3 separate regions of the Homo sapiens genome follow, and all the other regions are linked to region 3. Evidence: fine-mapped expression QTL. A gene starts in region 3. Each other region holds a variant in brackets. All regions are shown on one strand. Distances are from middle to middle.

Evidence for each region. PIP is the estimated chance that this variant, and not a neighbour inherited with it, causes the effect. A credible set is the group of variants that fine-mapping cannot tell apart.
Region 1: its variant is the best candidate, but not a certain one, in a credible set for the expression of ST14 in lung (TOPMed, PIP 0.75).
Region 2: its variant is the best candidate, but not a certain one, in a credible set for the expression of ST14 in whole blood (GTEx, PIP 0.90).

The regions. Positions count from the first base shown.
Region 1 is chr11:130,192,235-130,202,472 of GRCh38, forward strand. It overlaps ST14 (ST14 transmembrane serine protease matriptase), which reads left to right. Exons shown (of 19, transcript NM_021978.4): 8 at 1,915-2,054; 9 at 2,406-2,503; 10 at 4,105-4,214; 11 at 4,336-4,466; 12 at 5,607-5,711; 13 at 6,074-6,184; 14 at 6,274-6,387; 15 at 6,713-6,835; 16 at 7,717-7,903. Among named protein-coding and RNA genes, the nearest start is that of ST14, 38 kb to the left of the region's middle. RefSeq lists an enhancer at 5,872-6,373. The variant G/A (reference allele first, on the strand shown) is at 3,232.
Region 2 is chr11:130,113,097-130,123,334 of GRCh38, forward strand. It overlaps APLP2 (amyloid beta precursor like protein 2), which reads left to right. Exons shown (of 17, transcript NM_001142276.2): 4 at 7,610-7,722; 5 at 8,518-8,714; 6 at 9,209-9,417. It also overlaps the pseudogene LOC124902850. Among named protein-coding and RNA genes, the nearest start is that of ST14, 42 kb to the right of the region's middle. RefSeq lists enhancers at 5,794-5,873, 10,128-10,238. The variant C/T (reference allele first, on the strand shown) is at 4,783.
Region 3 is chr11:130,155,470-130,165,707 of GRCh38, forward strand. ST14 (ST14 transmembrane serine protease matriptase) reads left to right here and starts at 4,313. Exons shown (of 19, transcript NM_021978.4): 1 at 4,313-4,591. The coding sequence starts at 4,511. RefSeq lists silencers at 4,192-4,311, 4,392-4,461 and an enhancer at 5,549-6,048.

The DNA of each region.
Region 1 (10,238 bases), 37 kb after region 3:
CTGCCGCCACAGCTTCGTAACCAGGACTTCTTTTCCATCTCTCTAATTTATTAATTGTACAACAAAGAAGTACATGTTCCCAGTGGGAGAAGGAAATCGGCAAGCAAAAGGAAGACTAAAGTCACTCGTCATCTTACTGTCTAGAAATAACCACTGTTAATTCTTTTTCTTTGAGATGGAATCTCGCTCTGTCGCCCAGGCTGGAGTGCAGTGGCAAGATCTCGGCTCACCGCAACCTCCGCCTCCTGGGTTCATGCGATTCTCCTGCTTCATCCTCTCGAGCAGCTGGGATTACAGGCATGCGCCACAACACTCAGCTAATTTTTTTTGTATTTTTAGTAGAGATGGGGTTTTACCATGTTGGTCAGGCTGGTCTCGAACTCCTGACCTCAGGCAATCTGCCTGCCTTGGCCTCCCAAAGTACTGGGATTACAGGCGTGAGCCACAGCACCCGGCCAAATTTTTGATGTCTATTTTCCCAGCCTTTTTTGCTGTGTGTGTGTTAAGAAATAGGATTATCCCGTGCATTCAGTCTCATTACCTGCTTTAACAAATGAAGTATATTATGATGGTCTTTCCAAATCAGTCACCCTCTCTCTCAGGGTTTTTATAAGGTTGCATTGTTTAGAAGGAGGGGACACAATCAGGATGACATGGTTGTGAGCAGTGTGGACTCTGGAGCTTGAATGCCTGAGTTTAAATTCTAAGCCTGCCACTTATTAACCATGAGATGTTGGGCAAGTTACTGAACATCTCTGTGTCTCAGTTTCCTCACCTCTGAGATAGGGGTAATAGTATCTACTTCATAGAGCTGTTAGGAAGATTATGAGTTAATAGATTTAAAAGCACCGAGAACCATGCCAGGCATGTTTTTTTTTTTGAGTCTCCTTGTCACCCAGGCTGGAGTGCAGTGGCGCAATCATAGCTCACTGTAACCTTGAACTCCTGAGGCTCAAGCAGTTCTCTGGCCTTGCCCCGGAGTAGCTGGGACTGCAGGCAAGCGCCACCATGCCCAGCTAGTTTTTTTGATTATGGAGATGAGGCGTTACCCAGGCTGGTCTGAAACTCCTGGCCTCAAGCAATTCTCCTGCCTTGACCTCCCAACAGGCTGGGATTATAGGCCCGACCTTGGCATGTTCTTAATAAATGTTGATTGTTACTACTGCTGTTGTTCTGATTGAGCCCACAGTTTATTTAATAAATCCTCTGTTGTGGGCATGTATTGTGTCTAGGGTGTTGCTCTTTTTTTTTTTTTCTGACAGTCTCGCTGTGTCGCCCAGGCTGGAGTGCGGTGGTGCGATCTCGGCTCACTGCAACCTCCGCCTCCCGGGTTCCGGTGATTCTCCTGCCTCAGCCTCTGGAGTAGCTGGGATTACAGGCGTGCACCGTGATGCCCAGCTAATTTTTGTATCTTTAGTAGAGATGGGATTTCACCATGTTGGCCAGGCCGGTCTCGAACTCCTGACCTCAGGTGATTCACCCGCCTTGGCCTCCCAAAGTGCTGGGTTTATAGGCGTGAGCCACTGCGCCCGGCTGGGTGTTGCTCTTTGATTGTGACAAAGGTGAACTGTTTATCACTAGCGCCTTCCATCAGTGATTGTGACAAAGGTGAACTGTTTATCACTAGCGCCTTCCATCAGTGATTGTGACAAAGGTGAACTGTTTATCACTAGCGCCTTCCATCAGTGATTGTGACAAAGGTGAACTGTTTATCACTAGCGCCTTCCATCAGTGATTGTGTGGGGGAGGGACTTACTTGAATGAAGGTCTTTTTGACTCCATTCTTGGCCTCTGTGGATGGGACCAGAGTTAGGGGTGGGGTCCTCAGGCACCTCTGCCTGAGAGCCTGGTTTGGGTGTGTGAGAAGCTTGGGTTCTGTCTGCTCTTCCTAATGCCCGCCCTCTGCCCCCACAGGTTGTGTGGCACCTACCCTCCCTCCTACAACCTGACCTTCCACTCCTCCCAGAACGTCCTGCTCATCACACTGATAACCAACACTGAGCGGCGGCATCCCGGCTTTGAGGCCACCTTCTTCCAGCTGCCTAGGATGAGCAGTAAGGAAGGGCAGGGCAGGGCGGGACTGCCCTCGGGCCACAGAGAAGGGGAAGGCCTTAGTGGGGGTGACCTGAGCTTAGGAGGCCACAGGCTAGACCCTGTGGTTGGCGAGCTGGCCTAGGTCAGCAGCAGAGGCTGAAGCTTGAGCCAAAGGCATCTGGCCGACCGCCTGGGTCAGGAGCCCTCCTGAAGCTTCGGCACCCGGCACCTGGCCTTCCTGGCTGTGCACCTGCTGTGCAGCATCCACGCGTCCAGGAGGCAGCTCCAGGCCTCAGGCTGCAGAGCCCTCGTCCGCCTGCTCGGCCGGGCAGGTTCCTGATCCTCTTGCTTTCTCCCACCTTCCCTCTCAGGCTGTGGAGGCCGCTTACGTAAAGCCCAGGGGACATTCAACAGCCCCTACTACCCAGGCCACTACCCACCCAACATTGACTGCACATGGAACATTGAGGTAGGAGCTATGGGGCGTGTGAACGTGTGTGTGTGTGAGCATGTATGTGCACGTGTGTGTGTCTCCCTGTGCAGATGTGTGTGGATGTGTGTGCATGTGTTTGCATATGTGTGCATGTGTGTGTGTGTGTGTGTGTGTGCGTATGTGTGTGTGTGAGACAGAGGTGGATGGCAAATGAGGAAGACAGAAGAAAAGGAAGAGGAGATCCTTTATCAACCCCAAAGAGGCAGCCAGATGTCGTGACTCACACCTGTAATCTCAGCACTTTGGGAGACCAAGGCAGGAGGATCACTTGAGGCCAGGAATTCAAGACCAGCCTGTGTAACATAGTGAGACCTCATCTCTACAAAACACTACAAAAATTAGCCAGGCAGGTGATACATGCCTGTAGTCCCAGCTACTCAGGAGGCCGAGGTGGGAGGATCACTTAAACCCAGGAGTTTAAGGCTACAGTAAACTATGACAGTGCCATCGCACTCCAGCCTGGGCAACAGTGAGACCCTGTCTCAAAAAACAACAAAAACAAATAAACAAACCCCAAAGAGACCATGTGTCTTAGGGCCCAGGGTGGGGTCAGGTCTTCCTGCAGTGTCAGGCAGACCCAGACTCTTATCTTAGCTCCTTGTCAGGTGATGGAACGACCTGGGCAGTTGCTGAAGCTCCCTGGGCCTCAGCTTGCCCCTAGGTGAAGTGAGGGTGATAGTGCCTGGGTCTCAGAGGCGCCGTCA[G/A]GAAGAAATCAAAGAAGGTGTGTGAGACAAGAGAGTCGCCTGTCCGTGCCGCTCACGCCATCCCAGCCAGAGCTGCCTCCCTTTCCTTTCTTTAAAAATGCCAGGAGGGCCGGGCGCAGTGGCTCACGCCTGTAATCCCAGAACTTTGGGAGGCCAAGGCAGGTGGATCACGAGGTCAGGAGTTCGAGACCAGCCTGGGCAACATTGTGAAACCCTGTCTCTACTAAAAATACAAAAATTAGCCGGGTGTGATGGCGGGCACCTGTAATCCCAGCTGCTCGGGAGACTGAGGCAGGAAAGTAGCTTGAACCCGGGAGTCGGAGGTTGTGGTGAGCTGAGATCTTGCCACTGTACTCCAGTCTGGGTGACAGAGTGAGACTTTGTCTCAAAAAAAAAAAAAAAGAAAAGAGGCTGGGTGTGGTGGCTCGTGCCTGTAATCCCAGCACTTTGGGAGGCCGAGGCGGGCAGATCACCTGAGGTCAGGAGTTTGAGACCAGCCTGACCAACATGGTGAAACCCCATCTCTACTAAAAATACAAAAAAAATTATCTGGGTGTTGTGGCTTGTGACTGTAATCCCAGCTGCTCAGGAGGATGAGGCAGAAGAATGGCGTGAACCCGGGAGGCGGAGGTTGCGGTGAGCTGAGATCTTGCCACTGCACTCCAGCCTGGGCGACAGAGCAAGACTCCATCTCAAAAAACAAACAAACAAACAAACAAACAAACAAACACGCTGGGAGAACTTTGCAACCTGTCTTGGTGATGGAAGGCATACCATCTCTCCCTGGTCCATGCCGCTGCCTCCCTTTGACGTCCTCAGGTTCAGGGAGGAGGGAGGGGAACTGCACATTCCCAGCAGCCTCTCTTCCCTCAGGTGCCCAACAACCAGCATGTGAAGGTGCGCTTCAAATTCTTCTACCTGCTGGAGCCCGGCGTGCCTGCGGGCACCTGCCCCAAGGACTACGTGGAGATCAACGGGGAGAAGTGAGTCCCCGGGGGTATGGGGGCTGCCGGGCCCATGCTGCAGGGGGAGGGGTCCCACCAGACCCCCAGCCCCCCGGCTCCCAGCTGTCCCTCCTCACCTTGTGCCCCGCCCCCCCTCCAGATACTGCGGAGAGAGGTCCCAGTTCGTCGTCACCAGCAACAGCAACAAGATCACAGTTCGCTTCCACTCAGATCAGTCCTACACCGACACCGGCTTCTTAGCTGAATACCTCTCCTACGACTCCAGTGACCGTGAGTGAACATTGTTGGGAGGAGGGCTGGCGGGGGCCTGCACCGCATGTTCTGTCTACCCTGCATCTCGTTAGCATCGTGCTTTGCTGATTCTAAAATGCTGGAGAATGTAAGAGCATCTCACCCCTCCCGTAGCTTTGGGAGGAAAACACGCTACCTTTGATGCATTAATGAAAGCAGGCTGGCTGTGAGCGCTGGCACACACTGTGTCCTTCTGGGTTGCAGTCCCAGCATGAGGTACCTGCGGCTGGAGACGCCCCTCATCTGAGCTTCCCCGGCCATCTGTCCCTCAGGCCCACCTTCACCGTGACTTTGATCATCTGTGCTTGCCTCTGTGGCCTGTTAGCACCGTTAGGATTCACAGTGTAATTCTGAGACACATGAGGAAGTGCCATTGGCTGTATGAGCAGTGGTTTTTCCACATATGCAATGTGTTTTTATTTCAACCCTGCGTCATAGAATAACCTTGGGAAGACATTTAACTATGCTTAGGAATCCAACTTTAAGGTAAAATTCAAGGGCCTGGCTCACCACCAAAAGTACACTTGGATGAACCAACGCCTTTGATCTAAACACTTACCTGTGACCGAAGTGTCCCTGTGCCGAGGCGGTGACAATGGTCTCCTTACAGCTTTGTCATCTGCAAAGTGGTCAGATGCCTCCGGATTTCAGAAACATTGAAATATGGAAAATGTTTAGGGTGAAGGAAGTGCGCGATGCCGCACTACATTTGGATAGGACACATCACATGCATCGGGGACCAGCTGAGCGTCACAGGCGGGGCCTGGCCCTCAGGGGCACCAGGCAGCCCAGCACACAGGGCAGGGCAGGGCAGGGCCTGCGACCAGCTGGCCTCTCTGCAGGGCACCTGGGGCTTCCTGGGCTTCGATCCTCAGTGGTGGGGAGGGACCCTGCCAGCCCAGGTTGGGGTCTGTGGCCAGCCCTCTTCCCACACTAGCTGCGGGTGCAGGAACCCCTTTGTCACAGCTTGGTGGGCCTGGGTAACCCCTGCCCTGGGCCACAGCACCTGCCCTGCTCCTGTGTGTTTGTGGCTGGGAGGTTGGCCCGAGGGAGGGAGCCGGGAGCCAGCGGAGGGAGGTGGGTGGGTGCTGGGGGCCTCAGGCCTGCCTGTGCCCGCAGCATGCCCGGGGCAGTTCACGTGCCGCACGGGGCGGTGTATCCGGAAGGAGCTGCGCTGTGATGGCTGGGCCGACTGCACCGACCACAGCGATGAGCTCAACTGCAGTGAGTCAGGCTGGGAGCCCCGGTCTCCCCACCCTCCTTCCCCACCCTGCCCGCGTCCCATGGCCCTGCTGGCTGACTGCCGAGGCAGAAAGGCCGGAGGTGGTGGGAGTTTTTGCTCTCGGCCCTGTGTAGAGACCTCTGGCCCCACTCCCCACCCTGCCATATGGAGATCTTGGCCTGTGGGGCAGGTGGTGGGGTATCTCGGAAGTGCTGAGGTCAGCTTGGTAGCTGGTGGAGCAGGGCCCCTTGGGCCTCTCTGTAGATCAGAAAGCGGTCCCCAGGTAGCTCTGATCGCCTGGGCATCCTGGGGAAGCAGTGAGTGATGAGGGCCTCACGGCCGACCTCCCCTTACCCCACTCCAGGTTGCGACGCCGGCCACCAGTTCACGTGCAAGAACAAGTTCTGCAAGCCCCTCTTCTGGGTCTGCGACAGTGTGAACGACTGCGGAGACAACAGCGACGAGCAGGGGTGCAGTGAGTGCTGGGGAGGGGCTGCCTGGGCGGGCAGGTGGGCGGGGCGACTGACGGTGGCTCCTGGTGGCTGAGTCCTGGTGCCTCTCCAGGTTGTCCGGCCCAGACCTTCAGGTGTTCCAATGGGAAGTGCCTCTCGAAAAGCCAGCAGTGCAATGGGAAGGACGACTGTGGGGACGGGTCCGACGAGGCCTCCTGCCCCAAGGGTGAGGCCCGCCCCACCCATCTTCCTGTTGGGGGCCTCGCCCCTGGAGGAGGCTGCCCTGAGCACACGCACATGCAGGACGCCCCGAGTTTAATGAACACAAACCACCTGTGTGTTAAGTGTGATGAGAAAGGGCTCTGGTTGGGGGAGAATTTTCCAGAAGGTGGAGAACCTGTAGCAGGGCAGGGAGGCCAGTGGGCGTGGGTGGGGCAGGCCTGGGTGAGGGGGTAATGTGCAGGGGCCATGAGGCGCCATTGGTGGTTTCTGGCTTCTGGTCGGATGCTGCAGAGGAATTGAGCCCCTCCCTTGTCCTCCTCCTTGAACAGTGAACGTCGTCACTTGTACCAAACACACCTACCGCTGCCTCAATGGGCTCTGCTTGAGCAAGGGCAACCCTGAGTGTGACGGGAAGGAGGACTGTAGCGACGGCTCAGATGAGAAGGACTGCGGTGAGCAGGGCATCCGAGTACGGTTGTGCAGGTTGTTCACTGTGTGAAGTGCCCACCAGAGGGTGCACCTGGAGGTGCAATCCCGCCAGCACCTCACTTAGCAGCTCTGTGCTTGGGTGAGAGGGTGTGTCTCCTGGAGGAAAGGATAGCCTTGCCAGTTGGCATGAAGGCACCACCCCACGGGCTGGCTCTGGTCTTGGAGAAAGGCCCGTACGGCCAGCATCTCAGCGCCTCTGTAGCATGGCGGGGTCGTGGCTGCAGTGCGTTGCTGGCCCCTGCTGTGTAGACACAGCTGTGGAGCAGTAGCCTGGAGAAGAGCGGCCCAGCTCACCCAAGCCCAAGGCAGGGTGTCACCCCTGCCTGCCCATACTTTAATCTGCAGCCTCTGTGTTTCAGAAGCGTTGGCTGGCCACAGGTTAGATTTGAGCACAGCTCCAGCGTTCTGTGACCTCACATCAGCGGTTCATTCGTCCCTCTCAGAGCTGTGGCCTTCAGCATTCAAAGGCGCTTCTCCCTGCTCCATGCTGCCCCCTCCCCTGTGATGTCCCAAATGATGTCAAGTCAGGCAGATGACACCCAAATCAAAGTGAAGCTGACCAGCCAGCCTCCGGAGGCCCTCGCTGCATTTGTGAGGGAGGGGGAGGTGGGAAGATGAGGGTTTGAATTTGGGAGCGGGGAGAAGGAGGGGCATGGTGGAAGGGAGTCTGTGAAGCTCAAAGATAGTTTTGGGGGTCCCTCACGCCCTGGCCACGCCAGCAGTGCTGTGCACGCCAAAAGCTGGCTTCCCCACACAGGGTCTCCTGGCACACACTGCATGTCCCCTTGTGGTTTGATGTCCCCACCTTGACTTGCTGTCCTCTGGTTCTCTGCTCCCTCTGCAGACTGTGGGCTGCGGTCATTCACGAGACAGGCTCGTGTTGTTGGGGGCACGGATGCGGATGAGGGCGAGTGGCCCTGGCAGGTAAGCCTGCATGCTCTGGGCCAGGGCCACATCTGCGGTGCTTCCCTCATCTCTCCCAACTGGCTGGTCTCTGCCGCACACTGCTACATCGATGACAGAGGATTCAGGTGGGTCTCTGGGTGGGCAGCAGGGAGCCTCCTTGCTGGCCCTTTGCATCTGGGAGTAATGCCAGGATAGGTTGGCACCGAGGCAGGGCACTGGAGGGGTGGCCACATGTGTTAGTCCATTCTTGAGTTGCTCTAAAGAAATACCTGAGACTGGGTCATTTATAAAGAAAAGAGTTTATTTGGCCCATGGTTCTGCAGGCTGTATAGGAAGCGTGGTGCCAGCCTCTGCTTCTGGTGAGGGCCTCAGGGAGCTTCCATCCATGGCAGAAGGTGAAGGGGGAGAAGGCACATCACATGGCGAGAACAGGAGCAAGAGAGAGCAGGAGGAGGTCCTAGACTCTTAAGCAGCCAGCCTCGTGTGAACTCAGAACTCACCCATCACCATGGGAAGGGCACCAAAACATTCATGAGGGAACCGTGACCAAAACACCTCCTACCACGCCCCACCTCCAACACTGGGGATCCCATTTCAACATGAGATTTGGAGGGGACAAGCATCCAAACCAAATGAGCAGATATCCCAGGACGGGGCTCAATAACAGTAATAATAAAAACTCACTGTATTCGGTGCCCACTTGCAGCCAAGTGCTGTCTCTGTGCCTCTCCTAAAACCCCCTAGCAAGTTAGGCAGCTTGATTGTATCCTCACTACAGAAAGTAAGGTTCAGAGAAGTAGGGACGTTTGCTTGGGGTGGCACAGCTGTTAAGTGGCAGAGCCAGACTTGAGCACAGGTGTGGTCTCCGGTGAGTCTGCACTGTGCAACTCCTCGGATTGGCCAACGTGAGCTTTGGATTCATGCTCCAGCTCTGGCTTGCCGGTGGCCCTGGGCAGGTTATTCAAACTTCCTAGGCCTTGGGTTCTTCACCAATGATAGTGACAGTATCAGCTCCCACCCTTAGAGTTGTGAGAATTAAATACAATGCTGTACTTGAGACACTTTGCGCTGTGCCTGGCACATAGTAGGTGCTCAGCATGTCATGGCCTCAGACACACAGACAGATGAGAGGCCTGGAAGGGTCACATGGGCATCCCAGGAACAGGGGCACAATGCCGGGCTGCGCTATTTGTGTCTTAGCTCCTGGCCTCTCTGGGCGTCTGGCTGTTGGCTGAAGGAAGGAGTGTTAGGGCCTGGCTTGCCCTGAAGAGGCAGGCACAGGGGCATGGGCCTTCCAGGAGAATCCAACCTCGGAAGAAGGGGATGCGCTTTCTGCTGGCTGCACGCTTTTCCATGGTAGGCAGCTCCAGGAGCAGGTGACCCAAGCCCTCAGCTGCCCTTTGCAGGGAGGAGAGATGGGCCCACAGCAGGAGGGAGGCCTGAGGCACAGATGGAGTGTGCTCAGACCCATGCACAGGGCTTGGGTGATGGAGATGGACAGCAAGAGCCTGTGGGGAGTGGACCCAGTTCCATGGTCCCCAGCTTCGCTGGGTGCTTGACACGTGGCTTTGTCCAGCCTGAGGCTGTCCCTTGTCTCACTGTGTCACCCAGGCTGAAGTTCAGTGGTGCAAATCATAGCTTGCTACAGTCTTGAACTCCTGGGCTTGAGCAATCCTCCTGCTTCAGCCTCCTGAGTAGCTGGGACTACAGGCACATGCCACCATGCCCAGCTAGTTTAAAATTTTTGTAGAGACAGAGCCTTGCTAAGTTGCTAAGCTTGGCCTCCACCTCCTAGGCTGAAGTGATCCTCCCATCTTGGCCTCCCAAAGTGCTGGCATTACAGATGTGAGCCACCATGCCTGGCCCAACCACTTCTCTTTGAGGTTGGCTTTTGTGCCTCTTTGATATGCCCCATTCTTTCCTTTTTTGAGCCATGTCCTTGCTTTCTGGCACTACCAGGTACAATAGGCTCATCTTATGTTTCCCCAGCCCAGCCCTAGGACCAGCCATTTCTCCAAGGAGTCCTTTACTGGGAATGGTATTTAGAGACCAAGGTCCGGTTGCTTAGTGTGTTCATTGTCACCATGGTGTCATGTCCAGGCCCAGTTAGCAGGTAGAGCTAGGAAATGGCTGGGTGCATACTAAGAACTGCCCTGCCATCCTGCACTGCTTCCTCTTTTCCTTTGCTTCGTTGCTTTCTTTCTCATTTCCTTCTCCTTCATCGTGTGTTGATCATCAGTCATGCTTCTGCCAACGAGTAGTGCAATTAATCTTCAACACCCCTGGTTACTATTGACACTAGAGAGACCAACATGAATAGGACTTGGTCCCTGCAGATTGTGGGTCACAGACTTGTAAGGGTAGGGACAAGACATGACACACATGTGCAGTAAGTGCTGTGGCAGGGCTGTGTCCAGGCTCCCTTGGGCCCAGCATGTGGAGTTTAGAATTCTAAACCCA
Region 2 (10,238 bases), 42 kb before region 3:
TGTTCATAGACCTTTCTCCAACTATGCTGTGAACACCTTGCCAGCAGCGACCCTGTTTTAGTCTTTTTTGTCAACCTCAGCACCATGGTAGTGCCTAGAATATCGGATATACTGTTTACGATAATTACAACACAAAAATACTACTATAGTTGGTACACAACAGAAATTTTATTTTATTGCTTTATTTCCCAAATGATAGAGTTTAAATTTGTTAGCATGTTACAGAACCAAGCAATAGTATTGTCGTTAATGAAATGCATAAAAGACAGTTTAACCATAATCCATTTGGTACCTTCTTTGCATTGTGGTCACTGAATAAAGCATTATACAATCTTTGGTGTTACTTCAGACGGTTATTCATGTTTACCCCAGCATCCATTTGGACAACTTAGTAACCAGTCGGTAGAGCTATCCATTGATATTTTTACATAAGCACAGTTGCCTGAGCCTAAACGAATAAGGGGTGACATGACTGGAGTTTAAGGGAGGGAGTAGGAAAGACATATTGCAGTTCTCCCTTATCAGTTAGATTTTGATGTCTCCCTGCCCCTTCCGCTGTCACCTCCACTTCGAGCACCCAGGCAGAACTGACATCATTCAGTTAATAATGGCCACCACCTTTTCCCCCCATAGACTCCTTAGAAAGCCTTTTGATGATAGTCTTTTAGAGTTGCTATTGCTTTTTTAAATTAAAAAATAATAGTTTAAAAATAATTTCAAATTTACAGAATGGTTACAAAAATGGCACAGAGTTCCTCTGTGTACCCTTCACCCAGATTTCAGATTTTCCAACTGTTAACATTTGATCAATGTGGTAAAAAATCTTATTCTCCCTTCCCAGTACCCCTCACACACATACTCGAGGTTTGTTGTTTTTTGAATCATTTGGCAATAAGGCAAACATGGTATCCTTATGCCTTAATACTACAGTGTGTATTTTTAAAAAGCAAGGAAATTCTCCTACGTAACCGTGGTATAATCATCAAAAATCAAGATTTTGTAGACAATATCTAGTTGATCCAATATCTCATCTACAGACCCTACTCAGGTTTCACCTGTTGTTCTAATAACATCCAGGATCTAATCTAAGATTACATGTTGCATATTTCCTTGTCCTTTGTGACATTGATTTTTTTTTTTTTAACTACAGACCAGTTCCTTTATAGAAAAGTTTTCAATTAGCAGTGATCACGCCTCCGATAAACCTCACTGGCTACGATACTGCCACTGCACAAAGCTCAGTTCCTTTATAGAATGCCTTGCAATTTGTGTTTTTCTGTGATCCTTTTGATTTATTCATTTTTGAGGGGAGTATCACAGAAGGGTTCTCACTGCATCATAGCAGGAGTAGTGCGATACCAGTTTGTTTCATCACCTGGCTAAGATGGTATCTACATTCATTTGTCTTACTATGTACACATTGTCTGCATTTGGCCAGTGGGGGCCCCGTTATGCTGGTTCCTGTGTCCTTATAACATGTCCCTATCATTCTTTGAGAACTTTACTTTCTGATACAAAAGATTCTCCAAGTCCATTCTGTATTTTCCCTACTCCACTCCTGGAGTCTGTTTTCTCTGAGACACCATGGTTTCTTTTAGTGGGGAATGCTATTTTGAAACCCAGATCTGGGCCTTAGGTGATTTGTTTTTTGTTTTTGGTTATTTTTGGACAGAGATTTGGACAGGTAGTGTTATTGCGATATGAAAACTACTAAAGTTCTGATTTAATATCTACTTTGAAAACAAAACTGGTCTCGGCAGCTTTGAGGTGCTGTCTTCTGCATTTGTACCTTGGTCTGTTGGCATAGCTCACTTTTCCATTGCAGGTGTCCTTTTGCAAGTCTTCTAGCCTTTGAGTTCATGACAGCCACTGACAGTTCACCCTGTTCCTGGTGTGGACCCCTGTGCAAGGTGAATGTTCCACTCTCGAGAGGTAGCGTGGATCCTTCACTTCTCTGAACCCTGTTTTCCCTGAAACATACCTGGGGTGACCACCAGACCTCATTACATAAGGCTGTTTTCTCCCACCTGGGTACAGCTTTTACCAGCTCCCTAAATTACATGGTTTTCCTGTTTGCACCTGGAGTGTACTTTTGTAGTATATTTATTATTATTTTTTTAATTTTTAATTTTTGTGGGTATATAGTAGGTGTCTGTATTTATGGAGTACACGAGATATTTTGATACAGGCATATAGTGTGTAATAGTCATGTCAGGGTATGTAGTAGATTTACTTATATGCATGGGTGTTGGTGTTGGAGGCTTCCTCAAGTAGGTAAACAACCTTTGTTATTTATTCTGAAAGGAATTTCAGCAACTCTGAAAAAGCTCTAAAACCTGGATGGCTGCCATAGCACTGCTGGAGAGAAGTAGTAGGAAAGAAAAGCTGAATCACAGGGATGATTAGAAATTGGCGATAAATCCTAACTGCAGCTTAAATGAATATTGTATAGGTTAGGTTTTGCTATATTGCCATATTCATTGATCAGCAAAAACAGTAGAGCTTTATGTTTGTCCAGTGACTTAGGAAATTGTGGCAATTATATTATACTCCGCTGATAAAATTGAGGATGTTACCAGCTTGAATATAAATTACTAAAGTGAGAGCAAACCATTTTCAATGTTCTGTAAAACAGAGTAATACTGATCTGCCTAGGTAAATTTTTTTCCCTAGGAGCTTCTGATGAAAAATTGTAGCAAAGGCAGAGAGTAGCAATGAAATGATAGAGCGGATGCTGGGATTGAAATGTGTTTCCTCTTTCAGTCTACTTTTTAAAAAGGGGTTTATTTTTCAATAAAAGAAGTTTGCATTGGGGGAAGGGGACAAAAACAATTATTTTCAGTTTCTGTACTAAGTTAACTGTGATTAACATTTTGGGGTATAGATGAACATTTTTTTCTTTGGATACACATGGAAATGTATATACTTTTAAATGTTTTTTCCCTAACTGTGATGATACAACGTATGCTCCTCTGTTTAAAGTTCTGTTTATTTTTATTTGGCATTTATTGAGCTTTTATTATCATGTGCTACTTTTAGGGATACATACATCTTTGAATAAAAGATAAGGTTGGGAGAAAAAAAAAAGATAAAGTTGGCCTTAAGTAACTAGCCTGAAGAAGGGGTTAGAGATACGCAGTGGGTTTCCTTTTGTTTGTTTGTTCAATGATTTTAAAAATTATTAAACCACCATGGAAAAATGTCCATGTTAAATATACACATAAGCCATATTTCTTGTAACCCCATACTATTCTGTTGTATATATGTATCATCATTTAATTAATTCCCTCTCGATGGACATTTAGGTTTGTTCTAGTTTTTTGATATTAATAACACTAATGAATATTTTAATTCACTTGCCTAGTTATTTCCTTAGGGTGTGTATCTTTTTCTTTTTTTCTTTTTCTTTTTAAGACAGGGTCGCCGTCACCCAGGCTGGAGTGCAGTGGCGCGATCTTGGCTGACTGCGGCCTTGGTCCTGCGTGTCCCCCTTTCCACCCTGCAGCTGAGATTACAGGCATTCGCCACCACGCCTGGCTCATTTTTACTATTTCTAGTAGAGATGGGGTTTCCCCATGTTGGCCAGGCTGGTCTTGAACTCCTAACCTCAAGTGATCCACCTGCCTCAGCCTCATAAAGTGCTGGGATTACAGGCATGAGCCCCTGCGTCCAGACATCCTTAGGGTATCTTTTTAGAACTGGAATTGTTGAATCAAAGAGTACTGTTAAAAGATATATATATATATTTTTAGGCCAGGCCTGGTGGCTTATGCCTGTAATCACAGCACTTTGGGAGGCTGGGATGGGAGGATCATTTGAGATCAGGAGTTCAAGACCAGCCTGACCAACACGGTGAAACCCCGTCTCTACTAAAAATAGTAAAAATTAGCTGGGTGTGGTGGCGAACGCCTGTAATGTCAGTTACTCAGGAGGCTGAAGCAGAAGAATTGCTTGAACCTGGGAGGCAGAGGATGCAGTGAGCCAAGATTGTGCCACTGTACTCCAGCCTGGGTGATGGTGTGAGACTCCATCTTAAAAAAAAAAGTTAAATTTTAGAATTTAGTTTGTTTTCAAATTCAGTGGTGTTCTTTTTTGATTTTTAGAGATCGAACAGATTGATTCAGTCATGGAATAGCTGAAGATTAGTGGCATTTAATTTTATGGTTTAGCATGGAATTAATTATTTTATTAAATTTTTGGCATTTCCGAAAAGGTTTTGATTTTAAACTTTAATTCTGAAATATTACACCAAGCATCCTGAAGAGATGAGACATAATGTGATGGTTGCTCATATGCTCACCCTCCTGATTTCAGTTCTTCAGTGTTCTGTCATGTTTGCTTCATCTCCATCTTTTTTTTTTTCTGAGACGGAGTCTCTTGCCCAGGCTGGAGTGCAGTGGCATGATCTCGGCTCACTGCAACCTCAGCCTCCTGAGTAGCTGGAATTACAGGTGCATGCCACCATGCCTGGCTAATTTTTGTATTTTTAGTAGAGGTGGGGTGTCACCATGCTGGCCAGGCTGGTCTCAGTTCTTTTGCAACATTTACATGCATCTATAAACAATGTTTTTGTGTTTTAAAATTTACATTAATGGCATCATACTGTACCTGACCTTTTACAGCTTGCTTTTACTTTACATCATTTTTTAGTTTATCCAAGGTGTTGTATAGATTGAGTTAAAGGTTGTATTTCTGACCAGGCGCAGTGGCTCACGCCTGTAATCCCAACACTTGGGGAGGCCGAGGCCGGGGTGGATCACAAGGTCAGTAGATCGAGACCAT[C/T]CTGGCTAACATGGTGAAAACCCGTCTCTCTACTAAAAATACAAAAAAATTAGACGGGCGTGGTGGCACGTGCCTGTAGTCCCAGCTACTTGGGAGGCTGAGGCAGGAGAATCACTTGAACCCGGGAGGCAGAGTTTGTAGTGAGCTGAGATTGCGCCACTGCACTCCAGCCTGGGCAGCAGAGCGAGACTCCATCTCAAAAAAAAAAAAAAAAATAGTTGTTGTGTTTCTATAGAATATAGATTAGTAGTGAAATTGCTGCTTTAAATTTTTTTGATGTTGCAGTTGCACATTTAAAAGTGAGGTTTTACAAATTAAAGTGCATTAACTGTTGCTTAAATATACATTGCTTTATGAGTATGGTTGAATAGTTCGTATAAAACTAGTTCCTCAAGACTTCACTAACATTAACATCAATAGTGCCTACCAGGTGTCAGTTTCTGTTTTTATTTTAAACAACAAACCCACATGTGGAACAATAGTTTCTGTTCTAAGCTTTTCTTGTTGTATAGATTATGTCATTTAGTCCCCACAAGATAAAGAAACCGAGGGACAGAAAGGTTAAGTAACTTGGCTAAGGTTACTCTGCTAGTAAATGACAGTGCTGAGATTGAACCCTAGCATTCAACCCTGCATATACTTTTCCTTTAGCATCCACTTTTGTTGCTTTTTGTCATAAATGAACAAAAACAGCCTAGTTAATTCAGAATAATCACATTAAACCATGTGAGTTGGTGGTTGGATGTCAGAATTGAAGTAATTTCTACTTAGATTGAGTATCAGGGTTGTTCATTCTCGTAGAGGCAGATTCTAGCTTACTGTTGGTATTTTTGCTATTTTTAAGCAATGCTTTTAAGTCTCGTTGATTGCTAAAGCCTGTTTGCAGGTACTGCCTCCCCTAGAGCCTTTGGGGTCCTCAAGGGTAAGCAGCATGTCAGGCTCACTTTCGCAATCCTGCTTCAGTGTCACATTGAGCTGTGTGATCCCAAAGTCCCTGTGCTAGCAGTGCTGAGAAACCTGACTGCCATTTGTAATGCAGTTTTCATGTGGGGGGACTGTTACACTGCTACAGCTTGTCATGTCAGGAGCCCATCTTCCCCTACTTACACATCAGCAACTCCCTTTCTCTTACCACTGGGGCGGTAGAAAGACTGACTTCAGTGCTTGCGCCCGAGGCCCAAGGCAGAGGATCCTGAGAGACTCATCCATGATGGCGAGGCTGGGTGGGTCTGTGTAGACTTCCCACTAGCTGGGCCCTAAGCCCTTTCTTAGACCACATTACTTTCTCATGATATTTTCAGGGTTTTCCCCCCTTAACCTCAGAGGTTAGTCTGCCAGCTGCATCTTCCTGCCACTGCTTCCTGCATCTCTTCCTGGGCTAAGCACCCTTCTCGCCCTCTCTTCCTCTCCCTCTACACTGTGTGGAGCACATGGCAGACGTATGCCCAGTGTAGATTACTGAGCCTTACCTTACACTACTGATCAGAGTCTTGGGGTGATCATCCAGTGATGTGTTGTATATTTCTAACTTTTTATTGTGGCAAATTACAAACATGGCCAAACAAGAGACGATGATACCGTTCACCCTCACGTACTGGTTGCCCAGCTTTGTAACCACCATCAGTTCATGAGCCACTCTTCCACCTTCTATAGGCCCACTCCCTCACAACCCTGATTATTTGGAAACAAATCACATACCATCTTTTCCCTGTAAATAAACAGCTATGTGTATCTTTCTCCCGACTTTTTGGGACAAGTTTTAGAAAATGTAATAGTGAATATCTCTGTACCCTTTACCTAGATTCTCCAGTTTTACCTGATGTTTTTCTCTCTCTGCATCTTATATGTATATTTTTGTGTTGCTAAACCATTTGAAAGTAAGTTGGGATATCACGACAGTTCATTTCTAAGTATTTCAGCTGGTTTCTCCTAAGAGCCAGGGACATTCTTCTATATATAATGACAATACAGTTGTCATGTTTGGAAATTTTCCTAAGTGTCCAACTAGTGTTTTTTATAGCTTCCTTTTTAAAAGGATCACATACTACATTTCATCTAGGATAGTTCCCTAGTCTTTCTTTAGAAACAAAAACTTTCATGACAATGATATTTTTTAAGAGTCCATGCCATTTGTTTAATGTAATGTCCCTGAGTTTGGATTTGTCTTAGTGTTTTAGCATGATTAGATTCAAATGATAATATATTTTGGCAGAAATACTGTGTAGGTGATATATTATTTTTAGGACATCACACACACCAGTTTGCTCGTTATCAGTGGTGTTAAATTGGTTATCTGGCTGAGGTAGTTTGCCAAGGCTTCCCACCGTAAAGACACCTTTGCCCCTTTGTAATTAATCATTGATTATTCTTACTGGATTCAATTATTACATCATGTTTTGTCTAAAGATTCATCTGTACTTGAGTAGAACACCTGGTTTTAGTTTCTTGGGCATTTGATTACAGAGGTGTGGGCAGGAATAAGGAAGGCAGAGCCATGTGGGGAGAGTAGCTGTGTGTGTCTGAGGCGGGCATGGAGGTGATCCTATTATATTCCCCGTCACGTGTTGCTGTAGCCCTGCAGTGGGACTGCAGTCAGGGGGCTTTTAAAAGGTCCCTGGCATCATGGCTCTGACAGATTGGTGAGTTCTTGTGGCTGCTTGGCTAGAACTGTACCATCCAGTCAGCCTTTGAAGGTACGAGATGTGCATCTGCTCGTATACATGAGACTGCTCCTGGCTGTGTAGACTATCATCATAAACTTCAGTGAGGGGCATTTTCACCTTGAAATCATGGTCAGATCCGCTCTGACAAAGATTCTCTTTTCCAGTGGGTGAATTTGTAAGTGATGTCCTGCTAGTTCCAGAAAAGTGCCAGTTTTTCCACAAAGAGCGGATGGAGGTGTGTGAGAATCACCAGCACTGGCACACGGTAGTCAAAGAGGTAAGAGAACTCGGGGGGAAAGTCAGCTGCTGTTGTATCTGTTAGGAGGGAAGTAGCACTTTTCTCCAAATCTCACCATGCTTTTAAGTTAGTTATGTTTCCCCCATTATCTCCTTAAGGTTTACAATTACTTCTGTCTTATAAGTTAGAAATATTTGGGAGAGAAGTAGGTATTTGTGTAGGAGAGCTCAGTGTTGACAGTCAGCTCCTGAAGTTGAGGATGTTAAGGAGGTGGCTGAGCGAGAATACTGTATGCTGCTGGTGAGGCTCCCAGGAAACCATCCTAACCCTAAGGCCGGCATGGAAATCGCCAGTGATAGAAAATATAGGTCTGGACATATGCACAGGCAGGACTGCATGCCATCTCACTTTTCTGGTGGCAAGAAGTACCCTTTCTTGTCTTCTGTAATTAGGCTGGCTCTGCTCTTTGGTCAGTAATCTTCCTTTGGTCAAATACTGAAGTAGTGCTTGCACCAGTGGTGAGTATCTATTAACATTGACCACCTTATCTGGCTTTAGTCATTATTAGAAAAAAATGCTCTCTTCCTGACTTTTTTCCACATTTGGGATTTCAGTATTTTTGGACCAGATCATGTTTCCCCATTGTAAATTAAAATTTATAAATCTTACAATAATATTATTACAATTTTTTTTTGACAGAAAATGTATGTGTTCATAAGAGAAAGCATTGCTAAGTGATTTGATAAGGGTTTATTTTGGAGGGTAGAGATCGGAGTGTATTTGACCACGTTTACTCTGGAGTATGTTCTGATGTGGCCTGTGGGTTTCTTTTAGGCATGTCTGACTCAGGGAATGACCTTATATAGCTACGGCATGCTGCTCCCATGTGGGGTAGACCAGTTCCATGGCACTGAATATGTGTGCTGCCCTCAGACAAAGATTATTGGATCTGTGTCAAAAGAAGAGGAAGAGGAAGATGAAGAGGAAGAGGAAGAGGAAGATGAAGAGGAAGACTATGATGTTTATAAAAGGTAACTCTTCTACTTTGAACTGTGAAGTCGTTTTGCCTTTTTGTTAGCCCTTCTGTAAAGACGGCTGTTGGCTGCTAGTCCCTCACTTCTGGATAAACTGGGCATTCCTTTGTTCTGCTAGAGTTGATTAAGCTTGCATTTCATTCTAGCCATTGCCAATCACAGGAGTACCTGTGATTTTTGTGTTTACATCATTCTGAGCTGTTATTTTCTGCAGGTTACTATGATATTTTTTAAGAGTCCGTGTCATTTGTTTAACATAATATCCCTGAATTTGGATTTGTCTTATTGTTGTATCATGATTAGATTCAAATGTTCACAAATACTTCCCGTTTGCTGATGTAGCTGGGCCCCAGGGCTTAGTGGCACGGTGAAATGTGCGTTGAGCTTATTTCCTGCCTCTGTTTTTGTGTTTCAGAATAGAGAAGGGACCCATTGTTGTGCTTTGCACATAGGAGCTATTAACCTTCCTTTTTTTCTATTTTGGCCTTCAGTGAATTTCCTACTGAAGCAGATCTGGAAGACTTCACAGAAGCAGCTGTGGATGAGGATGATGAGGATGAGGAAGAAGGGGAGGAAGTGGTGGAGGACCGAGATTACTACTATGACACCTTCAAAGGAGATGACTACAATGAGGAGAATCCTACTGAACCCGGCAGCGACGGCACCATGTCAGACAAGGAAATTACTCATGATGTCAAAGGTAACCCCATGTAGAGCCATGGCTTTGAAATCCATGTGGTAATTATTCACTTAGACTTTTGCATTGCGTCTGTCACAGGTAAGTCAGTCACAGAAGGAAAGGTGTGGTACCTCTGCACTGAAGGTGAGTTCAGCTCTCCAGTGCAGTGATGGGATGGTGCCGTCTTAACAAAGTGGGCAGGCAGGCACATCCAGGGAGAGATGTAGGATTGAATTAGAGAACGGGGACTAGAGAGTAAGAGAGACAACGTAGTCCGCCCTTCAGCAGGATTCTTCCACATTCATCCTAAAATGTTCCCTCCCCAAGGGGAGCTCCCCTCTTCGATACCACTCAAGTTCTGGCCTCCTAGAATAGAAATGGTTTTCTTGGTTTTTCTTTTCCTGCTTGTCTTCTAATCTGTAGGCTGCCCTATTTGTCCAGATGTTTTAGTTGGGAGGGTGAAATTTATTGACCTGCTGGTAACAGATTGGGGCCTGCAGTTTTTTTTTTTTCTCATCTTGCCAATTAAAACACGAAAAGGTTGCAGTAGTTCCAGAGCCATTAACATGCAGCCTCCTGCTGATCGTATATTTGAAACCAATTAAGATGCGAAGAATTATTTAGGACCCAAGTTGGGGGAAATTACTTAACCAGTTGAGAAGTTTGTGATTTGCCTTAGAGAACATAAAAGTGGGAAACAATTGTCCGTTCTAGGTGCTTGTCTTTACTACGGGTATCACCACTTAAAGCAGCCTTTCCACTCACACTGTCTCCTGAATAGACAAACTAGGCAGATACCTCCACTGAACAGATCAGAAATGTGAGGCTCTCGCAGCTGTGAG
Region 3 (10,238 bases):
GTGCAGGAGCCAGGAGGAAGCGTAGCCATCAACTATCACATCAGACCCATTTGGTTTAATCCTCATGAAATTATGATATGCTGGCCGGGCGTGGTGGGTCATACCTGTAATCCCAGCACTTTGGGAGGCCAAGGCGGGTGGATCACCTGAGGTCAGGAGTTCAAGACCAGCCTGGCCAACATGGAGAAACCCCATCTCTACTAAAAATACAAAAATTATCTGGGAGTGGTGGCACGCACCTGTGATCCCAGCTACTTGGAAGGCTGAGGCAGGAGAATCACTTGAACCTGGGTGGAGGTTGCAGTGAGCCGAGATCCGAGATTGTGCCATTACACTCTAGCCTGGGTGACAAGAGCAAAACTCTGTCTCAAAAAAAAAAAAAAAAAGAAAGAAAAGAAAATAAAATAAAAAAAAGAAATTATGGTATGCTTTTGTTTCTAAACTCGGTGAAGAGACCCAGTAGCAGACAGCTTACTTGACGGACACTGATCAGCTCCACAGACTGTCCTCGCTCACTGTCTCCAAACAGCATTTTCAGTGCTCTTATGTGTATCAGGAAGATCAAAATACACTATACCATAAGTCCTAAGTGACGGAAGAGATTAGTTATTAAATTCTGGGGAAAGTTAATCATATTCACTTTGAAACTTTAGCTGAATTTGGATCTCACTAAGGGGAAGGGGCCAAGTCATCGGGGATGGGGTGGGAAGGACCGTGCAGGAAAAAGCAGCATTACCTCAAGGATACTAAACACCTGGCGTTTAGAAAGTGCATTTTCCCCATGAAGCATGTTTGACAGGGAAGCATGAGGGCTGTGCCAAGACAAAAGCAGAAGTGGTTCTAGGTGTCGAATTCATATAAACCTTGTTGTTTCAGAAGGTTTAGGTACATTTATGGATGCCAGCTCCATAACCGGTTCATTTGACTTTATTCTGTTCATTCTCAACCTCTACCACACCTCTTTGCTGTTTGCACTTTTCTTCTTTATTGAAGGAGCATGAGTCGCCTGCAGGCCTGGCACAAGCTGCTCTGGTCTCCCCGCCTTGGATGGTACCAGAGCACTGGCTGTTTCACACTTGGGCTGGGCCTACCTCACATGGCCCTACTGTCTCCCACATTGTCACCAGCTTCAGCCAGTGTCCTTTAGCCTGTGGGCAGGTCCACATTTGCACACCTTCTAAGTGGTCCCGGCCACAAGGACATAGGGGCTTGTTGGACATGCCCTTGAGGGGGTCCCAGGGACACAGATGTAACTTTCCCAGCAGGCAGTCCTGGAACCAGGAAGAGGATGGCTCCCTGGAGAGGAGCGATGACAGCTTTGCAGTGCTGGGGCCGGGGAAGGGCCAGTGAGGGGGTGGTGGAGAAGGCACAGTGGGTGGTGAAGGTTGGGTCATTTGGTCATGAGTCACTCTTTCTATAGCAGAGAAATGACACGGACCTCAAGCCAAAATCTGGGCTTGAGTTGGATTTGTTCCTTGTGAGTGTGAGAATCTGGTCCTGTTCTGGAGGCTGTCTGCTCTTGGGTTCCTTCACTTACCATTTAGGAACAAAAGCACTGACATTTCATAATTTTTTGAGGATTAAACCAAATGGGATTCATGGAATAACATATGGTTACACTGCCTCCTCCAACCCAGGAGTGCACATAGGGTGCATGCAGCAAGGTATCCCCATGCAGCCATCCTAGGGGAAGGGTCTTGTCCTGCATCGCTTTCTCTTCATCTGCACTAGCAGTCAATGCATTGCATTCATACGGCATCCAAATCACGCTGAGCGCCCAGCTCTACGAGATAAAAGATGAGGCCCTAGGAAGTGGGGAGACAACGTGAGTCACTGCGTTTGCAGCAGCACAGAAGGTCTGTGTGTCAGGAGTACCATCTCATTTACGTCACATTGAATTTGGCTTACTTTCCATCACTCACACTAGTTGAAGAATGCTGTGCCATTGGTAATCCAAAGGAAAATTTATTTTTATATATTTTCTTTTTCTTTTTTTTCTTTTCTTTTTTTTTTTTTTTTTTTGAGAGATGGAGTCTCGCTCCAGGCTGGAGTGTAGTGGCATGATCCCGGCTCACTGCAACCTCCACTTCCCAGGTTCAAGCAATTCTCCTGCCTCAGCTTCCCAAGTAGCTGGGACCACAGGCATGCACCACCATGTCCAGCTAATTTTTGTATTTTTAGTAGAGATGGTGTTTCACTATATGTTGGCTAGGCTGATTTCAAACTCCTGACCTCAGGTGATCCACCCACCTCAGCCTCCCAAAGTGCTGGAAGCCAACGTGCCAGCCTTTTAGAAATATTTTCTGTTTAGCTTTGGAATGCTTTATGTGATGGAAGGCAGCAGATTCATTCTTCTTTCAATTAAATTGACCCAATATATTGTGTTAGTCATTGTGCTAGGCTTTGAGGGTGCAAAGGCAGTTAAGACACAGACAGAAAATGCAACGAAATGGTGGTGAGCTCCATGAGAGAGGTACAAACAGAGCTAGTTCTGGTTGAGAGGGAAGGAAACTCCTGGGGAGGAGGTAGCATATCAGTCAGGAAGCGTGAGGTTTGCAGCAATAACAAACAACCCTCAGCTCTCGGTGGCTTAACATCCCAAAAGCTGACTGACTCCTCATTCATGCTACATATCCAGTGTGTGTCATTGTAGCCACTTAGGGTCACAGGTCACAGAGTTAAACCTCTCAGAAGAGAGCAGGGCATTGTGCAGTGCCTCCTTATGCTGCTATGTACAAGTGGTGTGTCCTCTCATTGGACATTTTCTTGGTTACCGCTAGCCATACTGCCATACCTAACTTCAGAGAAGAGAGAGTAACACCCTGGCCTGTGCCCAGAAGGCAGAGAGCTAAAAACATTCAATGAACAACACTAAAAAACCCCATCGGTGTCTTCGACCCAATATGCGGAAGGAGTATGAAGGAGAAGAGCTTCCAGGGGATGAAAAGCTTTATGAAAGCTGCCAAGATCAGAACGCCTGGCTGGAGAGAGGGGCTCCAAACAGGAATGCTTGGAGGCACGGTGTTAAGGGAGGACAGGGCAGAGTGTGAAGCTGGGCTAAGGAGGTTGGATTTGATCCGGGAGACACGGAAAGTCATAAAGGAGCTGTGGTTTCAGATTTACCTGACTGCTTTGTGTAGGAGAGATCAGAGGGTGGCAGCCCAGAGGCAGGAGATCTTTCTTAACCAGGCAAAGGGCTCTGAGGACTCGAATAGCGGTCTTCTAATGCGCAGGAATGGAAGGGCTATGCTTGTCAGCAGAGTCTTGATCAGATTTGGAACTAATTGGATATGAGATGTAAGCAGGGTGGAGAATCAAAGATGATTCCAGGATTTGAGCCTGGGAGAATGCTGCCATTAGAATTAGAGAAAACAGTGGAAAATGGGCAAGTCAGGGAAGGAAGATGGGGCTTGTTGATCTCAAAGCAGGGATTTTTATTTTGTTCACTCCTGTTTCCCTGTACCCAGGACAGTGCTTAGCGCCTAGTGTGTGCTTGGTAATGTTCATTGGCTACAGAATACAGTAGAACATAAATGGAGACGTCCCCAGGCGACCGCTAAGGCAGAACTGGCACTCCTTGGTGGTGTCTGTGCTGGGAGGGAGGTCTTCCTGTCTGAAGTCGTAAGATGAGACGTGCTGCCAAGAGAAAAAGCTTAGAGAAGAAAGGGATGAAACTGAAGGGAGAACTTTGGGAATCATGACATTTAGGACTAGAAAGGAGGACCGGAATCCAGGGAAAGGGGGCATTTGAGGAAGCATCAGATGCTGCAAGTGGGCGAGGGGCGTTGGGATGGCTCAGAGGGCATCTGGTGGCACAGCTCATGTCACTGGGCCTCCCCAGGGTAGCCGGGCGCAGGCCAGCAAGCGCCTCCCGCCTGGAGAACAGGAGGCTGCGTAGCCGACGGGGAGCCTGGGCCAGGGGCGGTTCTGGTTTCTGTTTGGTTTTGGGGGGTTCATAAATGCGATTTAGTCCTGTAGCAAAGTGAGCAAGGTGAAGGGGAGAGACCGGAGGCGCATGAGGGAGGAGGGAAAAGATGGTTGGCATCAAGGAGGTGGATAAAGGGCTGCCCTCCCGGGGCAGGGCCCCTGGAGGGCCGGAGGGGTGGTGAACGCCGTCGTGGTGATGGTGAGGGCCTTAGCGACCACCACCCGAGTGAGGCCCCCTCACCTTCAGGCCCAGAGCCGAGGGGAGGAGCCTCCCCCAGGGCCGGCGGGGGCGGGCAGGTGAGCCGGGCAGGTGCGCAGGCGAGCGCGGCGGGCTGGGCGGGCCGAGGCCACACCCTGAAACTACCTGCGTGGGCCGGGCCGGAGTGTGAGAGCGGAGCTGCAGCCGGAGAAAGAGGAAGAGGGAGAGAGAGCGCGCCAGGGCGAGGGCACCGCCGCCGGTCGGGCGCGCTGGGCCTGCCCGGAATCCCGCCGCCTGCGCCCCGCGCCCCGCGCCCTGCGGGCCATGGGAGCCGGCCGCCGGCAGGGACGACGCCTGTGAGACCCGCGAGCGGCCTCGGGGACCATGGGGAGCGATCGGGCCCGCAAGGGCGGAGGGGGCCCGAAGGACTTCGGCGCGGGACTCAAGTACAACTCCCGGCACGAGGTGAGCGCGGGCCGGGGACCCGGGGCGCTGGGAAGCTCCTGCCCGCCCGACCCTGCAGCGCGGCGCTGGGCTCGGCCGGCTCCCCTGGCGTGTCCGTCGGTGGCCGAGCTCTGGGCGCACAGGTGGAATTTCCTGTTCAGCGGGTGCCGGGCCGCGGGCGGGCGGGGCTGGCCGGACCTTTGGTACCGGACCGGCTGCGCCCCGCCAGGGGGAGGCGGGAAGCCCCTGGGCCTTCCTGCGCCCTCGGTCCTTTCTTTCCCTGAGTTGAAAAAAGGGGCTCCGTCTCGGCCCCTCCATGACTCTCGCGCTGTTAGTGAACATCTGGAAGAAACCAGGGGCTTGGAGTGGGGTTATTTGGGAGGAAGTGAAATTTCAGGAGGGTTTGGAGTCTCAGCCATCCTTGGCCTCTGCAGAAAGTTTCTTTCGTCTCTCTCCTTCCCCGTCAAAAGGCGCTTTGGGACCTCGCAGAGGACAACTGGGAGGCCAGGGCTTTGGCTGCCATACGGGCTGGAGCTAAGAACTCCAGAGTTGGGCTTGCCTGGGCTTCTCGAGAGGGGATGGAGCCCTTTGGGAAGGCGGCTGTATGGGAAGGGATGTGGGAACACACATGTCTTGAGCCTTTTGCGAAGTACCGAAACAGGAAGCTCTTCTTTGGCAGAAAGAACAATGAAAGACCTATTGAAAGATCTCAAAAAGATTACATGTTCCTGTATGGAGTTGGGGATGGGTCGCTAGTCACTTCATTGACGGACCCACCTAGGTGGTAGTGCCCGGGCGGGACCAGCAGCCAGGTCTCTACCCTCTCTGTCCAAGGCAGACCCCCAGGTTTCCTGGAAGGCCAGGGCATACCAGGTCAGGGCGGCGCTGAGAGGCAGGGGCTGTGTGGCAGAGAGTTTTGCTCCTCTGCAAATGATGGCCTCCCTGCCCTGCCAACCCTCACTTTCTCCCCTCCTTCCGGGTGCCCCTGGGCTCCATAGTCTCCGCCGTTGCTCCCTAAGTCAGGCCTGATTTTGGTGCTGTCTCAGATCAATTCCTTTTGTCCAAGCAGCATCCCGACCTAGGGAGCTTGCAGAAAATCAGACGCTGGGGCTTTGGAGGCTGCCTGCACCACAGACAGGACCTGGGGCTGGGCTCTGCTATTTTCTCCACTTTTCACCCTCAGCAAGGAGGAAAGCTTCCAGTGGACCTGAAGGCTTGGGCCCTTCCCCTGGCTGTGCCTGTGCCCTGCTGTGAGGCAGATTCACCTTCTCTTCCTTGCTGTAATTGCTATGTTTGTGTCCTTGCTAATTGCCTACTTGGGGTTCTAGACTCCCTGCCTCTTCAGCAGAGAACCTGCTGTTTGGAATTTGTTATTTCAGGGCAGTCCGGTGCCCCCACCCCAAGTTTGTTCTCCCTGACTTCCCTTTCTAGGACTCTCCTGCCCACACGGGGAAAGCAGGGTCTTCCTGGTCGTGTGGTCCAGCCTCCTCTCTGAGCCATCTCACCACCTGACAAGCAGCCAGGCTGGGGCTCACCTTCCACTCACCCCCAGGATCCCACATTCAGCGGACTTGTCTTGTCACCTGCAAGCCCTGGCTTTAGTTTCCCCCATCCCTGCTCATTTCCTCCTCCTCTGCGAAGCTCATTTGCTCTCTGCGCCCTTGGGCTGTTCCTTCCCCCTCTGCCATTTTCATTCTCTTGGCTTGCTCTTTGTCTTTTCTCCTGCCGAGCTTTATTGAACTAACTCAGTACCTAGTCCCATGGGTGAAGGGAAGGCTCTCAGAGACCAGTAAGATGTGGTTGTTTCCTTTAAAGAACATCCAGTCTTGAGAGCGAAACTAAGAGACGAATGCCAAAGTTAGCTGTGAGGCGGAGTGTCCAGAGGAAATTGGCCAAAGCTCATTTCCATGTCTTGCAGATTCCTCCCATCCCTGGCCTCACCAGAAATCCCAGTCCCTGGGATCACCCTGTAGTGTGTGTTTGCAGCTAGGATGTCCATCCCCGGCCGGGAGGTGTGGCTGCTGCCCCTGGGTTTATTATCTGGGTCAGCAGAGCCTGGCCCACAGGGTGCTGTTGTTTCTGGGTTCCTTGTCCCCAGTTGCATCCATCCGTGCACCCTTGTTTGGTGGTATTTGTATCTGGCTGTCCCCTTCCCAAGGCTGGTGGTGTGGCCCCTGCCCCACCCCTGCTGTTCCCATCAAGTGTTCTGCGTGGCCTTCAGAGTCCTGATGCACGTTACTGCATCTGGGGATGGTGTGAGCCCTGCCTGCAAGCAAGCAGGGAAACAGATGCCACTTCTTATGGCCATTAATGAGAGCCAGGGAGCCTGCCTCCCTGAGGGTCTTGATTCCTGTTGAGTATTTGATGGTGAATATGAAGCTGCCTTGACATCCACTGGTTCCTTTTCCGATCACAATTGCCCTAGGTAAGACTCAGCATCCCTTAGGCATCCAGAGACCAAGTTTGGAAAAATCGGATGTTGTGTGGCCAAAATCAGATGTCTAGGGGCCAGGGTGTACACCTCTGGCTATTCAGAGGGTCACCTGCTTGTTAATTTGTCAACCATTCAGGCATTCATTCACATAACAATATCTGCTAGGTAACCCACTGACTGAGCCTGTGCCAGGTGCTGGGAAATAGCAGTGAGGAAGACCCTAGACTCACAGCCCCTGTCCTTGGGACCACCCAAGGTAGTGTGGGGTACAGGGAACTGAATTCTGACTCATGAGTACTAGCTTCTCGATATGCACTGGGTGAGCACATGGCATCTCTCTAACCCAGGCTGGAAGGGCCAGGTCAGCAAATTAGGGCTGCAGGCATCTGTGATGTGGTGGCAGGAGGTAACATGCAGCCAAGACCCGGGGCCGCCTTGTCTAGCCACGTGATCTCAGAGATGTTACTCAATATCTCTAAGCCTTGGTTTCTGTGGCTATAAAATGGTGATGACATATATGTTCCAGGTTTGTTGAAAGGATTAAGAGGGGTACTTTACATGAAAGCCCTTTGTAAGTTGCAGTGTGGTGTTCAAATGATGCAGCTTGAGTTTTTGAGTTGAAAGGGACTTGAGACAAGCAAGAAGATCGTATAGTATCAGTAGGTCGCCTGTCGAGAGGCTGAGAACCCAGGCTGTCAGTGGGGCCCTGACCTCACAGAGGAGCCATCCTGCCCTGCCAAACACAGGGAAGTGCCCCCAGGATTCAAGGAACTGCTCGCCAGCAACAGAGACCTCTTCCTAAGACCTTCTGATTTTCATTCCCCTGCTTTACCCAGCTTCTAGGAGAAATATCTTTCTATGAAAAGAAAATGTGTGCCAGCTGCATATCCCTTTCTCCTTCTCATCCCCTGCCCCTCCCACCATAGAAAATTAAACTTTTATTTTGTTTTGTTTTTTAGACATGGGGGTCTTGCTATGTTGCCCAGGCTGGACTCAAACTCTTGGGCCCAGGTGATCGATCCTCCTTGTCTCAGACTTCTAAGTAGTTGGGATTACAGGCGTGAGCCACTGTGCCCACATAAAACTTTAGAGAACTGCCTTTTTTGTTCTCTAGAGCATGTGCTGGGCAGGTGTGTGCAGTGGGTGAGGAAGAGGGTTGGGAAGGCAGAAAGCAGCAGGAAGCTAGGATTGTCCTGTAGGTGGGGCTTCAGCTGCTGGAGTGGACCGGAAATCTGCCTTCTCCAGGGGCTTTCTGGAGCCTTCCCTCTGCCTTGGTCCTGAGAACACCTGGAAATTCCTCGTTTAGGAGTTGAGAAAACTGAGGAAGAGGAGAAGATGCCCCTAGTTTGATGGCTGCCTTCGCCTGCTAGCAGTGGAAATGGTCAGAGGGTGGACCTGCTCGAGCCGACTTGCTGGCCTGTTGCCACGTTGTCACCGGCTGCGGAAGGAGAACGAGTCACAGCTCCCTCCCCCTACCTGACCCTCACTCTGCTCCCTGGGAACCAGACTACCAGACTGCCTACTGCTGTGGCCAGTGGCTTCTGTCCCTCGGAACACTGTGGCCCTCAAGTTCCCTGATGTCTGCTCCTTCTCTGGTCTGTGGTTCTGCCAAGGCTGGTGGCTCATGTCTCTTTTAAAAGAGAAGTTGTCTTTGGAAGAGGAAGGGAAACGTGACAGAGTCCCCTGGGAGCCCAGGTCCTGAAGATGATGTTGCTTCTGATATTGTGCAATGATTACTGGAGTGTCTAGAATACTAATAATGATGAACACTAATAATCGTTAGCATTTATTGAGCATGGCTGGCTGCTTGTCTTTTTTCCTGCCAAGCTTCATTGAACTAACTGTGTACCTAGTCCTGGGTCAGGCATGGCTGAAGGGAAGTAAGATGTGGTCTTACTAGTCTTTGAGACCAAGTATTACCCTTCTCAGAGACAAGTGTTGTTATTACTGTTTTTTTTTTTTTTTAGACAGGGTCTCCCTCTGTCACCCAGGCTGGAGTGCAATGGTGCAATCATGGCTCACTGCCACTTTGACCTCCCGGCTCAAGCAATCCTCCTGCCTCAGCTTTCTCAGTAGCTGGGACTACAGGTGGGCACCAGCACGCCTGACTAATTTTTGTATTTTTTGTAGAGGCAGGGTCTTGCTATGTTGCCCAAGCTGGTCTTGAACTCCTGGGCTCAAGTGATCTGCCCACCTCAGCCTCCAAAAGTGCTGGGACTACAAGTGTGAGCCCCCACACCCAGCCTTATTATTATTATTATTATTATTATTATTATTATTTTGAGATGGAGTTTCGCTCTTTTTGCCCAGCTGGAGTGCAATGGTGTGATCTCAGCTCACCACAACCTCCGCCTCCTGGATTCAAGCGATTCTCCTGCCTCAGCCTCCCGAGTAGCTGGGATTACAGGCATGCACCACCATGCACGGCTAATGTTGTATTTTTAGTAGAGATGGGGTTTCTCCATGTTGGTCAGGCTGGTCTCAAACTCCTGAGATCAGGTGATCTGCCCACCTCGGCCTCCCAAAGTGCTGGGATTACAGGTGTGAGCCACCACGCCCGGCCCAGCCTTATTGTTATTACCTTTTTATAGGTGAGGAAAATGGAGCACATGGAGGCTAAGTAACTTGCCTGAGGTCGCAGAGCAAAATAGTGGCGGAATCTAGATTGGAGCCCAGGTAGTCTGGCCCTGTCATATCCTATGTGGGCTGTGACATGCGGAACAGGGCTGTCAGCCCACAGGGTTCAGGAGGGGATGGAATACTAAAGGTTGACAATTCATCAGATTTGGGTAAGAAACTGGATTTCTCTTCTCAGGTTGTTTCTGAGATGCCTGGGACTAAATTATAGAAACCATTTGGTAGGATGGGAATAGAAACTTACAGAATTCTCAGAGTTCTTAGCCTGGCCTGGTTGGCAGTGGTGAGAAGTGTGTTTGGGGTTTGCTCAGAGCTCATGGGTAGTAGTTGCCCTTTTTGCTTTGTTAAGAATCTTTCCAGAAGCAGCTCCCTGCTAAAAATTCTGTCTCAGATGCTCATATTTTCAAAATTTCCCTATTCTGCCTGGACTTAGCAATATTTTGGGATTTTCCCCCGAATCCTGTGATAGTTGGCTAACTGATCAAAATCTTGGATCCTTTGACTCTTTTTGGCCCACGTTGGTGATGCTGAGGTGGTGGTGGGGATGATGATGGTGGTGGCGATGTTGAAAGGGTGGAGAAGAATGTGATGACAGTT